Regions from separate parts of the Homo sapiens genome. Here region 1 is linked to region 2. A link means that fine-mapping ties the variant in region 2 to the expression of a gene that starts in the linked region. Tissue or cell type: lung. Region 2 holds a variant in brackets; the other region holds the start of a gene. All regions are shown on one strand. Distances are between the middles of the regions.

Region 1 (4,156 bases), 51 kb before region 2:
ACGCAGGAAGTTAACTCCCACCAGTTAATCTAATGGCCTTGAGTTTTGATGTGTTTGCTCTGTCAGAAGGCTGGGCTGGAACTTCCTTGGCAGCTGGTAACAGTCAGTGCCTTCAGGGGCTGCCTTAGGGGCGGACAGAGGCTGGGGTGAAGGTTTAAAGAGGGGAACCATGGATCTGGGCCTCTGAGTCGTGGTTTTCAGGGGACAGATCTGGCTTACTGTCTTCCCATCTGAGAAATGGGGTGTGGAGTGGTCTGGAGAGATGAGTTCTGAAACTCCCATCAACTTGGCACCTCCCCTTAACCGCTCCACCCAGGCCCTTCTGGGTGACTAGTTTAGGGTTTGTGAGGACTAAGTGGTGGGAGGGGAAGGGGTCTGGGTGCCCACCCAGGGAGCATCTGTCAGCAGGTGTTTGCCTGTGTTTGTGTGTACGAGTGTGCCTACACACACCCATGCATGCATCCCTAAGCACACACAAGCACACACACATACACCCCATGCACACATACCCAGGCACACACACAAACACAACGTGAAGCTGTGCCCAGAAGCAGGAGGGCCCTTGATGCCCTCTGGTCACTGCTGCTACTGTGAGCCAGGGCTGGGGAGGAGCTCAGGCCCAGGCGTGTCCCCTCTGTGGCAGGCGCATTGCTTCTTCTGCAGCCAGCGTTCTGTCTCCTGCGTGACCACTCACACCTACAGACCAGGTGGCCAAGCCTGGACATTGTCCAGGCTATCAGGCCTCTGAAACACCTCAGGGAAGGGTGAGGCCAGTGAGGCCCAGTAGACAAAGCACAGGGGCCTGAAATTGATCCTCCATGACCACAAGCACCGAACTTTCTTAGCCCCCACTTCGTTATGTGTATGCTGAGGATAACGCAATGTAGCTGAGAGAGTACATGAGGGTAAATACCGCCTGTTCAATCAATAGTCCTTGTTATTCTCATCCCCAGTCCCATTCTCATAGTGGGGAAAGGCTGCAGGGTCCATTCCTGCTCTCCCAGCTGGTGACCAATGGCAGGTGCTGGTGAACAGCGTTGGATTCAGGAGCCCAGAGCTTCTGAAATTCTACATCTGTTGGAGTTGGTGCTGTCATCTGGCTCTGGGATCCAGAGCTCTTGGGACTCATGGGTTTCCTGGGAGGTGAGCTCTGGCAAACGTGGATGGTTGTTCTCCCTGGGTGAATCCATACTAGGGAGTTTGGGTAGAAGGCCTTGGGAAGCCCTGGTTTTGTTGGGTGAGGTGTCGGAAGGCAGAGCAGAACTCATGGATGGGACATGCGGGTTGTAGATTTCAGCTCAAACGAGTAAGAACATTCTTAAGGCCAGCACTAGCCAAAAAAAAAAAAAAAAAATTAATAAAAGGAAGAACTCTCACTTAAGATACTGAGCTTCCTGTCCTTGGAGGTAACCAACCAGGAGCTGGAGGACTGCTTAGCAGGAATCTTGTGAATGGAGTCAAAGCCCCAGAGAAGGCACTGGACTGAGAGCCCCCATCTAACCCCATGTGTGCCCTGTTTCCATAGAGGAGCTTGCAGGACCCTGGAGCCTGGACCATGGATGGAATTCTCCAGTTGACCTTTTCCCTGTTAAGTGGAGTGGGACAGGGTGGGTTGGGTGCCTGGCTCTACAGATGGTAACTGGGCTTCAGCCTTACCAATTCCTGGGGGAGGCAGGGCACCCTCTCAGTGGAGGGTTGTTACCTCTCAGGCACCGCCAAATACAATTGGCCATCTCCTGCTCTCTTTTGGGGCTGGACTGTGGATCCCTGCTGCCCCTAAACAGAAGTCATAACCCATATCTCCCCGGACCACAAGGCCTGTCCACTAGAATCTCTGCATCCCGATTTAGGAAGTGGAAGGCGGGTACTGCTCACCACCAGGCCGCTGGGGTCCACAAAGCCTGCTCCAGCCTAGAACCCCAGGTGGATGTGCAAGTGTTTTACTTATCCCTTGAGGGTTAAAATCACGGGAATCCTTTCTCTTTTGAGGTTAGGTCAGACGCCATAAATGATCCAGAACCCCTGGAGCGGGGGCTGATGGAGGGGGTCCCTCTCTTGTCTCTGATCCCAGAGCGACTTTCCTCTTGACTTCGTGGGGGCCTCCCTTGGATCCCTGTCCTCCTTCCTCTCTCCGCTCCCTCTGTCCGTCTCTCCCGGAGCCGGAGCCGGGCTCTGGGTCTCTGGTCTCCTCTGAATTTCTCTCTCTCTCCCTCCACCTCGGCGTTCTGGCCCTAGGAGCGTCTCTCTCCAGCGCTGTCTAATAGTCTGTGCGCCCCTCTCCCAGTCCAGGGCCCCGTCTCTGGCCCGCAGTGTCTCGGGCTGTCTCCGCGTCTCTGAGCCCCTGGGCTGCCGCCCCTCGCGCGCTGCGGTGGCCGCGCGGGCCGGAGCGGAGCGGGCTGGAGCGCGGCGGCCACGGCCCGGGGCGGGGGTGCGGGCCCGCGGGGGCGGCGTTGGGCGCCTTCCTTCGTCAGTCCCTCCCCGGCGGCGCGGGGGGTGGGGTGGGGGGGGGGCGCGGCCGCCGCTCGGCGCCTTTAAGGGAGCGGGAGGGAGCGGCGAGGCGGCGGCGGCTGCGGTGGCGGCAGCCGAGGCGAGCGGGGCGGGGGCGCGGGCGCGGCGCTCGGAGTCCGTTCGGGGCCGGAGGCGGTCGGGGCCGGGCCCGGGAAGCGCGAGGAGCGCGCGTAGCGCCGCCGGAGCCCGCCGCCCGGGACATGGCCAAGGCGGGCCGTGCAGGTGAGGGCGGGCGCGGGGAGGGCAGGGCCGGGGCCCGGGGGAGGGACTCGCGCGTCTAGAGGAGGGGCCGCCGGCCCAGGTGAACCCCTCGCGCAGGTGGGCGGAGGTCCCGGGAGGGCGTAGGGGGCGGTAGCGGGGCTGGACCTCCCGCGCGTGGAGAGGGGGCTCCGCGCGCCCCCCGTCCTTCCTGCGCCCCCGGTCACCTCGGGGGACACCGCGTCCCCTTCTCCACGGCCCCGCCGGAAAGGGCCAGGTCTGCGGCGCCCCGGGCCAGTCCCGCCGTTGGGAGCCCTCTGCACCCCGCGGAGGCCCCGGGCAGACCCGGGCTTCGCCACCGAAGGGGATGTCCCGCGGCCGCCGCTTCGTCCCACACCCCAACGCAAACCGGGACGCGCCCCCTGCTCCTGCAGCTCTCTCCATCCAGGACGCCACAACCCCCCGCCCCAGCCCCCGTCACCAGCTCAGTCCAGAGACCCAGATTCCTTCTCGGGAAGGAGGGGAGCCCCGTGCCGCGCCGGCTGCTGGCCGCCCCGCCCCCTCCCCCATCGACCCTGGGACGCAAAGCCTCAGCTGCGGAGGCCTCTTCTGGGGTCCCGTGGGCTCTGCCCTCCCCCAGGCTCAGACGGTGTAGCCTGTGGTTTGAGGGAGCGGGCATTAGTCATTCGTTCATTCATCCAGCCCGACGTTCATTCACTAGCATCTGCTCTGTGCCAGACCCTGAGCTGGGCACCGGGGCTCAGGCGGACTCAGCCCCCCTGCTGCGCCCATGCTGGGGAGACCCAGGCCCGTGACTCATCGGGCACATTCTGGGCCCGATGGTGCCTTGGGAGGCGGGTGGAGGACAGCTGTGCCCACAGGGCCGGCCATACAGTAGGCGGCAGCAAGCCTGGTCTCGGCAGTGCCTCTTGTGAGGCTGGCGTGTGAGAATCTACCATGAACTCACACCCAACCCGTGACGTTGGCTGGTGCCATGCCGTCCCCCAGGACCGGGCGCGACAGTGAAGGAATGGGTGTGAATACCATCGGGCTGTGTGTCAATCCACCCCCAAGCCCGAAAGCTGCCCGGGACCCTGGGCTGCGGACCCGTCTCCCTGTGCAGGCACTGAGCCTGTAAGATTTAGGTGCCTGAGAATGCACTCCCGTTCTGTCCCCAAGGAGTCCTGTCGGGGTGGGGCCGGTTGTGTGAGGCACAGCCAGTATGGAACACAGCTAAACAGCCTTCTCACTCCCCTCCCTTTTCCCCTCCTGAGGGAGGCACTGTGAGATGACACCAAGGAAGCTGAAAAAGGCTTCTTGCCTCCCTCTTTCCTCCACCGTGCCTGGGTCCTCACCCACCCCGACTCCTTAAAATGGCCTGTGGCAGGGCGTGTGTCCCATCTGCTGCCCTACCCTGTGTGTGTGTGAGTGTGTGTGTGCACTGGGACGC
Region 2 (4,156 bases):
GGAGAACTCATAAACTGTCTCCGTGAGTACCGACTATGGACTTGGCATGAGAATGTGGAGGTAATGACTCAGACCCGGCTCCTCCCTGCGCTGGAGTCCTCCCCTCCTCCAGGGCCTGACACATAGTAGATGCCCGAGAAATGCCAGAAGTGTCTGTGTTATAGTCAGGGCTCAGGGCCAGTGCTCCAGAGGGCTGCAGGTATTGGGTTTGCTGTTCTGAAGTCCGAATGGTGTTATCTTCAAGTCTGTGTTTTTGTGTTTTGTTTTTTTTTTTAAATGGAGTCTCACTCCGTTGCCCAGGCTGGAGTGCAGTGGCACTATCTCGGCTCACTGCTACCCCTGCCTCCTGGGTTCAAGTGATTCTCCTGCCTCAGCCTCCCTAGTAGCTGGGATTACAGGCATGCGCCACCACGCCCAGCTAATTTTTGTATTTTTAGTAGAGACGGGGTTTCACCATGTTGGCCAGGCTGGTCTCAAACTCCTGACCTCAGGTGGTCCACCCACCTTGGCCTCCCAAAGTGCTAAGTTTACAGGCGTGAGCCACCATGCCCGGCCAAGTTTGTGTTTTGTGAGTGAAGTCTGACGGGACAGTGCATATGTGTGGGGGTACTTGGTGGGCGGCTCTCACATGGTCCTGCCTCCTGCCGCCTTGAAGCCTCCTGGGATCTTGGCCTGCTGCTCTCCTGCCCTCTGGCTTCTCAGCCCCACCCCCACCCAGCTTTCTTCTCCTTCCCCTGCCCATGGACAGCCGCTGGCCTCCCTCCAAGCCAGAGCCTGGGAGCAGGCAGGGCTGAGGTTAGGTGCTTATACTCCACCATGTCTTGGGGCGAGGCAGCTGTCCCCACCCTGGGCTGGCAGTGCCATAGAGCATTCCAAGGGTGATTCAGAGGGAAAAAACCTCTCACTCAACTAGTGCGTTTCAGCATGGAGGTTGCAATACTCTTGTCTACCCTGGATGGGGCCAGCAGGCCTGTGGGAGGGGTGCATGCTTGGCTCAACTTTCCAACTGTCACTCACAGCATGGTTTGTTTGGCCCAGTGGCTGGCAGGAGGGGGATCCTGGGTGCTGGTGGAGCCTGTGTGTACGTGCCAAGCTAAGGAGCAGGGACCCTGGGGCCTGGGAGGGCCTGCACTCATCCCTCAAGTCTCCCTGGGCATGAGGAAATACAGTAGCAAATAGAAAACACTGGCCGGGCGCGGTGGCTCACGCCTGTAATCCCAGCCCTTTGGGAGGCCGAGGTGGGCAGATCACCAGGTCAAGAGACTGAGACCATCTTGGCCAACATGGTAAAACCCCATCTTTACTAAAAATACAAAAATTAGCCGGGTGTGGTGGCGGGTGCCTGTAGTCCCAGCTACTTGGGAGGCTGAGGCAGGAGAATCGCTTGAACCTGGGAGGCGGAGGTTACAGTGAGCCGAAATCGCACCATTGCACTCCAGCCTGGTGACAGAATGAGACTCTGTCAAAAAAAAAAAAAGAGAGAAAGGAAAAGAAAAGAATAGAAAGGAAGGAAGGAAGGAGAGAAAGAAAGAAAACACCATAACAGGTTTTAGAGCATCCTCAGGGAAAAGGAAAAATGTTATATTTTAGTACCTTTAGCAACATTTTTTTTTTCTGTTTGAACAAGGGACCCGGCATTTCCTTTTTGCATGAGGCCTTCCTCATTATGCAGCTGGTTTTGGTGGAGTATGATAGAAAAAGCAGGAGGTTTGGATTTGGAAGAGTCTGCAAGCTCCTTCACCTCTTCAGGCCTTGGTTTTCTTATCTGTAAATGGGCTTCCT[G/T]CCTTCCTTCCTTCTTATCTGTAAATGGGACCATGCTCTCTCACACCCCCGCTTTGCCTTGAACTTGGCATTCCATAAACATGATCTTGCTGGCTGCTTGGAATGCCATGCCCTTTCCTCTACTGTCAAAACTGAAATCTCTGCTCTGGCACAAGCTTCCTTGGAGTCCTCAGTCAGAATGAATCTTTCCCTCCCCGTCTCTCCCCGCCGGTCTCGCCTCTCATTGCAGTTAGCCGTGTGCTTCTCTGCACAGAGGTGTTCTTGCTCCTCACTCACTCTGACTTCCTCATCTCTGTATCCTCCATGGCCCCTAGCATGGGGCTTGGCCCATAGAAGGCGTTTTTTGAATGCATGTCTTATGTCTTAATTTCTCTGCTAGGCCCCAGCTCTGCTGGGTGGTCAAAGTTGACTTCTTAGGGACGCCAGAGTTTCATGGGCCTTAGCTGGTGCTCAGACATGGTGCTGGTCTTCGCTCCCTGACCTGTGTATTGGATACTGGGTCATTCCTTGTTTCTGTCCACATCTGTGCTGCTGTTGCACCTGGGAAACAGTCTGCGTCCATCCTATTGTGCTGTGTGGGGACTGCTCTATGACGGTGTCCAGGTCTCTGTTCTCTATCTGGGCCCCTCTTGGGCCTAGGCTTTGTCACGGCCCCTAGGTCTAGGGAGTGCTGTGAGCTGGCATCTAGCATTAACCATTGATTGTCTCTATCTGGCTGCACCTGGGATCATGATGAAGACAAAAGGGACAAGGTCTTGAATCAATGGTTAGAAGTAAACAAGTAAATAAAACAAGAATCAGAGCCATCCTCACTTATTGAACACCTGTTTTGTGCCTGACTGTGTTCTGAAGGCTTTACATATATATATATATATATATTTTATTTGTCTTCTTTTTTGGAGACGGAGTCTCATTCTGTCACCCAGGCTGGAGTGCAGTGGCGTGATCTCGGCTCACTGCAACCTCCACCTCCTGGGTTCAAGCAATTCTCCTGCCTCAGCCTCCCGAGTAGCTTCGGGATTATAGATATGCGCCACCACGCCTGGCTAGTTTTTGTATTTTAGTAGAGACAGGGTTCCACCATGTTGGCCAGGCTGGTCTCAAACCCCTGACCTCAGGTGATCCGCCCACCTCTGTCTCCCAAAGTGCTGGGATTACAGGCATGAGCCACCGTGCCTAGCCGGCTTTACATATATTAATCATTTAATATCCACAGTAACCCTCCGAGGCAAGTACCAGTACTATCCCCATTTTATAGATTGGAAGATTGAGGCATATACAGGTTGTGTAACTTGCCCAAGGGTGCATGGTTCGTAAGTGAAGAAGCTGGCATTTGAATCCAGGTATCCAATTATAATGCAGTGTCACTCAAGGGCTTTCAGGACCTGGAGGTTCTTAGCGAGCACTGGATCCGTGCTATCTTGTAGGAATGAACCCAGAGAGGGAGAGTGCTGTGCCTTACATCACACAGCAGGCCAGAGGGAGCCTAAAATGGAGTCAGCCTCCAGATTCCAGCTGGACACTCTTCCCATTGTTTACCCCTGCCTGCTTTTGAGAGAGCCCGGGGGCCATGACCCCAGGATTCAGGGGACGTGGGCCATGAAGATGGCCCTGGCAGGCAGAGGGCTACAGAAACAGGGTGATGGATTCTAATGAATCCATCTGGAGAACACCTGGAGAAGTTCATTCTGATGAACACCTGGAGAAGTTTCATGTGAGAGGCAGGCACGGGGTTGTGAGAGGCAGGCATGGGGTCAGGAGAGGAGTCATCTACCAGGCCCTGGAGTGTGGGCTGTGGAGATGGAGGAGGTTCTTAGACTGGAGTTGCCCTTCAGTTCTGTAGGGGAAGAAATGAGGTAGCTTTGCATGGGGAAGGATTCTCGAGTCCCTTGGGGAGACCAGGAGGTGACTTCGCTTTCTGCCTTGGAAACCTTCCTCAGAGACCTGGGGCCCTAGAGGAAGCCACAGACACATTTTGGGAGGGGCCGCAGACTTCTAGGGAAGCTTTGGTCATGGGGAGTGTGCAGTGTTTGGGAGTGGCCACAGAAGACGTCTGGGGGGCAGTGGGATATGCAGATCCAGAGCTAAGGGGAGAGGCCTGGGCCAGAGGCAGAGCCCTGGCAGTGGTTTGTGGGCTTGGAGTTCAGTGTGGACCCTCAGAGGAGAGAGTGAGTATAGAGAGGCAGGCAGCTCCTGGGAAGCCGCTGCTTTATAGAGGAGGGAGGAGAGGAGGAGCTGGAGGACAAGACAGAGGTGAAAACGCCTGAGGAGGCAGAGGAGCCAGGCCGTACTCTCCCCAGAAATGGCATCAGGTGTGGCATGAAGGGCCAAGGGCTAGGTCAGGTCAGGGCAGAGCAGGGCATGAAGTGGTAGG

Evidence for each region. PIP is the estimated chance that this variant, and not a neighbour inherited with it, causes the effect.
Region 1: PITPNM3 starts here. The variant in region 2 is fine-mapped to the expression of PITPNM3 in lung (TOPMed, PIP above 0.99).

What each region holds. Positions count from the first base shown.
Region 1 is chr17:6,554,959-6,559,114 of GRCh38, reverse strand. It overlaps PITPNM3 (PITPNM family member 3), which reads left to right and starts at 2,560. Exons shown (of 20, transcript NM_031220.4): 1 at 2,560-2,730. The coding sequence starts at 2,709. RefSeq lists an enhancer at 3,649-4,156.
Region 2 is chr17:6,503,701-6,507,856 of GRCh38, reverse strand. The region is part of intron 3 of PITPNM3 (PITPNM family member 3); the gene reads left to right. Among named protein-coding and RNA genes, the nearest start is that of PITPNM3, 51 kb to the left of the region's middle. The variant G/T (reference allele first, on the strand shown) is at 1,783.